Regions from separate parts of the Homo sapiens genome. Here region 1 is linked to region 2. A link means that fine-mapping ties the variant in region 2 to the expression of a gene that starts in the linked region. Tissue or cell type: whole blood. Region 2 holds a variant in brackets; the other region holds the start of a gene. All regions are shown on one strand. Distances are from middle to middle.

The links. PIP is the estimated chance that this variant, and not a neighbour inherited with it, causes the effect.
Region 1: it holds the start of MCUB, and the variant in region 2 is fine-mapped to the expression of MCUB in whole blood (INTERVAL, PIP above 0.99).

The regions. Positions count from the first base shown.
Region 1 is chr4:109,559,132-109,561,746 of GRCh38, reverse strand. It overlaps MCUB (mitochondrial calcium uniporter dominant negative subunit beta), which reads right to left and starts at 1,501. Exons shown (of 8, transcript NM_017918.5): 1 at 1,311-1,501. The coding sequence starts at 1,409. RefSeq lists an enhancer at 615-814 and a silencer at 1,235-1,554.
Region 2 is chr4:109,680,202-109,682,701 of GRCh38, reverse strand. MCUB (mitochondrial calcium uniporter dominant negative subunit beta) reads right to left here. Exons shown (of 8, transcript NM_017918.5): 5 at 1-120. It also overlaps a transcript of CASP6 not described here. Among named protein-coding and RNA genes, the nearest start is that of CASP6, 22 kb to the left of the region's middle. The variant C/T (reference allele first, on the strand shown) is at 1,222.

The DNA.
Region 1 (2,615 bases), 120 kb after region 2:
AATAATCTGTGTTTAAAATGGCATGTGAAAGGGGTTCCTCGTATTGGGTTGTTTTAATGTTTGGTATCTCTTTGACTACACAATGCAACACTTACAGTAAAAGTACAACCTTTAAAAGTATAAAAAGCCCATCTCCCCAATGACTTTATAAGTCTACCATTTTACATTTTAAGGAGTTTGCCCCTGTTCTTACATTTAGTAACAACATGGCCTTCCTCATTCTCTTTCAAACATTCCTGGAATTGATTTTCTGAATGCACTTAATCCTTTGGTCACAAGCTCAATGAAAAGGAAAAAAAAATGCACTTAAATATTCCCTGCATCAATTGAAACTGAAGCCCTCAGACAGCTGGAGGAAAAGGGGGGGAAGGAAAAAAAAGAACAAAATAAACAGGAAGTGAAAGTGACAAGAGAATCACACTGCTTACTTTTTGGCTTTTAAGCCTTTAACAATCTGAAAGTAATCTTAACAGTGTGGGGGAGGAACAAACGAAAACTCAGAAACAGCTCCCTCCCCAACCACACACACCCTGAAGGCTTTGGCTGTCTTTCCTCATCTGGGTCAGAGTTTGCACTCCCGGGCTCCTGTCAGGCTCCATCGCAATCCTCCTTAAACTCAGCGCTTTCCCCTTCTTCTAGTCTTTTTTGGTGCACATCCACTCTCTACTCCTCCAAGCCACGGTTCTCCACAGACCACAATACAACGGTGTCAGGCCAACTGTTACTCACCAGCACACTCATGATTCACCCGTCTCTCGGGTGTCTGAACAAAACGCGAGTTTTTCTTCCTTCTGGGAAAGGGAGGTGCTCGCAGATTTCAGGATGGAAATTTCACTCTCCTGCGACCGTCCACACCCGGGACGGTCACTGCCCCGTTCATCGTTTCCGGGCTCCTTAGGGGCTCGGGCACTGATCACCAAGAGGGAACCGGCCCCGCGGCGCAGCGGCTTTGGAAACTTGCTCCTGACCGAGAGCTGCAGCCCAGAAACTGCCTCCCAGGTTATTCTGCTGCTCCCAGGCCGAAGTCTGGTGGTCCCCGCACCCTATCTCGGCCCGGGTGAGGCACCCCCAGCCGCAGCGCTCTGGCTTCACCTTCCCCGGGCCCGGAGTCTTGACCTCAGCCCAGGCCTCCGTGACCCACGTCGGCCGCCCGGCCACCACCTGTCGGGACCGCCCGGCGCGCGGAGCCCGGCAGCCAGCAAAACGCAGTTGACTGCTCGGCCGCTCGGCTTTTGCTCCCGCCAAAGTTGTCCAACGCAAACTTTGCACCAGCCTACCCCGAACCCCCACAGCCCGGCACCCGCTCTTACCTGGGGCGGAGGCGGCAGCGGCCACGGGCGCGCTGGGCGCCAGGTGCCAGGGGTCGGCAGCAGCCGCGTGCGCCACGGCCAGAGGCCCCTCTGGAGCATCCTCCCGCCCCAGGCGCGCGGCTCCCGCAGGCGTCAGCGGCGCATCCTCCCTCAGCCGGGCTCCTCGTCAGCGCCTGGTGGCTCCGAGCTGTGGGCGCTCCCGCCCCGCCTGCTCGCTCAGCGCGCCGCGGCTCCAGCTTGGGCGGGCTCACGGGAGGGTGTGTCCCTGTTTCCACTTGTCGGCTCTCTACGCATCCGGGCGCAGGGCTGTTTTCTTTCCTCCGACCAAAAAAAAAAAAAAAAAAGAGAGCGAGAGAGCGGGAGCCCGAGAGCGGGAGCCCGAGGTCGAGGGCCCCCTCCTTCTCCAGCAGAAGACCCTCTGGAATGAACAGCAGCAGGCGACGCACACCTTGCGAGCTCTAGATTTCAAAACTCGCTGTTAATTCCCGGTGCTGCGTGCTCTGAGCGCCGTCTTCGCCATCCAACCCAGACGGGGATGAGACGAAAACAGCGTCCGGCATCTGGAGGGGGCAGGGCCGCTCAGGAAGTTTGTTTTCCCCACCGAGCTTGGAGAAGACGGATTGAAGCGGGTCGGCCGAGGCCTCTCCCACCTCCACAACCTCCAAGGCCTCTGCCCCGGGCTGCGGTGCCGGGCCCCTGCTCGCTGGCGAGTGCGGTGTGAGGCGGGCAGCCCGGGCCTACCCCTGCGGAGGTTTGTAGTTCACGGTATAGGGGCCCAAACCCGAGTTTTTTGGGAAAGTATCTCCCACAGAATTGGCTTCTCTTTTGAAGCACGTTTTTAATTGAAGAAGCTTCGGAACCGGTATTGAGTTCTTCTAACTACTGGGAAATCGGATGCTTTGTTTTGAGACTACTTATTTTTGAAAGCAAACCAAAGGCATTAAAGAGCAACCTAAACCAATTACAGTAGGGTTGTTAGATAAAATATAGGATGCCCAGTTAAACTTGAATTTTAGATACAAATAGTGAAGTATGTCCCAAATATTGCATGGGTCACATTTATTATTTTAAAAATGAAATATCTGGGATATACTAAATTATTTGGTGTTTATCTGAATTCAAATTTAACTGGGCACTCCGCATTTTTATCTCCTGAATCTGCAAGAGGGTTCAGTTAATGAATCAAAATTGGCAAACCTGCAATAAGTGGCAAATCACTCCTGGCGGTAATCTCCTTTCCTTATTGAAAAGGGAAAGAATCACAAGTTTCTACTATAGTAAAAACTTTATCACTATTAAAGGCTG
Region 2 (2,500 bases):
TCTCCAGTAAATGGTGCTCTCTCTTTTTCTGAGACTCTTCTAAATGCAAGATTGTAAATAGTCTGTGAACCAAAGATTTCATGTGTTCCATCTCAGCAGTGTGCTCATTACTTGGTTTTTCTGAGAAAAGACACAAGGGAAACAAGCCAGTCACCACATTGTTCCCGCAGGGTGTGTAAATCTTTCGGTCCCCAATTCTCTTTCCAAATATTATCTTAGGATCCACAGGGTAAGGAAGCTGGTGTACAAACATGTAAACAAAGGTGTAATATACATTTGAAAAGCAGTTCAAGTGTACTTTTCAACAAAGAGAGTCACAGTAAACAACAAAGTGTGGATCTGAAGAGCAGTTCATATACAAGGTAAAAAAAAAAAAAGTCACCAAAAAAATGACTTTGGCATAAGGATTATTTTCAGCTGAAGGCAATTGAGCATAAGCAGCTACAAGAAAGGCTCTCTGGCCTCTCCCTTTTTGCCCAAAAGCAGGACACAAATTTTACAAAGACCTCGTGAGAGACAGAACTAGCTGGATTTCCTAGGCCAACTAAGAATCCCTAAGCCTAGCTGGGAAGGTGACCGCATCCACCTTTAAACACGGGGCTTGCAACTTGGCTCACACCCAACCAGAGAACTCACTAAAATGCTAATTAGGCAAAAACAGGAGGTAAAGAAATAGCCGATCATCTATTGCCTGAGAGCACAGCGGGAAGGACAAGGATCGGGATATAAAACCAGGCATTCGAGCCAGCAATGGCAACCCCCTTTGGGTCCCCTCCCTTCGTATGGGAGCTCTGTTTTCACTCTATTTCACACTATTAAATCTTGAAACTGCACTCTTCTGGTTCGTGTTTGTTACTGCTCGAGCTGAGCTTTCGCTCACTGTCCACCACTGCTGTTTTGCCGCCGTAGCAGACTCGCTGCTGACTTACATTCTTCCGGATCCAGCAGGGTGTCCACTGTGCTCCTGATCCAGCGAGGCACCCCTTTGCCGCTCCAGATCGGGCTAAAGGCTTGCCATTTGTTCCTGCACGGCTAAGTGCCTGGGTTTGTCCTAATTGAGCTGAACACTAGTCACTGGGTTCCATGGTTGTCTTCCGTGACCCACGACTTCTAATAGAGCTGTAACACTGCATGGCCCAAGATTCCGTTCCTTAGAATCCGTGAGGCCAAGAACCCCAGGTCAGAGAACACGAGGCTTGCCATCATCTTGGAAGTGGCCCA[C/T]GACCATCTTGGGAGTTCTGGGAGCAAGGACCCCCGGTAACACTCTCTACCAGAAAGAACAAAGGTAGATCGCCAGAGACAACTTTAGACCCTTTTCAGCTTGGAGACTGCACCAGAGGAATCTACAGACAAACTTTAGTAGCTTTTGACTACCTTTAACCAACTTATTTGCTTTTCCACAATTTGCTGACCCCAGAGACTCAAGGACCTTTTCCTTTGACTTGTCACAACTCTAAAAATGTATTATTCTTTGTAGAAGATGCTCTATCAGCTGAGGTTCAGAGCCACCTCTTTGAGAATTACTCATTCCTTGGATACCTCCCATGTGTCTATGGAATATACACATTAATAAACTACTGTTTGTTTTCTTCTTAGTAATCTCTCTTATCACAGGGGTCCATCCCAGCTAAGAACTAAGAGTAAAGGGAAAATTATTTTTCAACTCTTACAGGAGTTACGGTTTCAGAGTTTTTAATATAAAGTTCTCTTGATTATAGACTTCCCTCATCCCACCTCCTCCATGGGTTTATAAGTCCATATAAAATTAGGCTCTGCTATGAGAAGTCCCTCAGATTGATACCCTTCTGAGAGCTGTAATTGTTCATTATCACTGTTAAGAGAACCTGAGGGAGGACAAGGTGAGAGGAAGGGAAGATGGACCTTCCCACCAGGCAGCAGCAAACAACTGCAGACAAGAGAGACATATGTCTAGAGTTGGTATCAGCCCAGTAAGTTTTCCAGTTTGTGTCAGTAGTCCTGAAGTTATTTTTCTTCCATCACTACCCAATTCAAGACTGCTGTGGTCTTTACCCCCTTCCATAGTCTAGGCTATAGCTGCCACAGAGGGGTGAAAGCTAGGTGTTCTCTTTTAGGCTTTGAGATCTGTAGAAGAGTCAGAGTCCTTTTGTTAATGAAAAATGTATTGGTACATAAAACATATACATACAGAGAAAAGGCATAGATGGAAGATAGGCAAAGCTAGGCACTAAAACAGCAAGGGTAAATTTTATTAATAACTATTGCAATAGGGTCCAGCGTGAACTGAACTCAACTTCAATTTGTGCAGAGATGACTGTTTTAAAGAAAGAATGACAGAATGGGCAGGGTGAACAGCAGGGGCTTGAACAGAGTCAGGGAAATGAAAATTTACAAAAAGTGGATAGTTGGTTAATGTTACTGGGCCATCTGGGTTTGTTAACTGGTACCTATCCAGAAGAGAAATAAACTTCTCATACCTTATGACAGGATGCAAGTCAGAGCCAGGCACCCACGGGTTGGG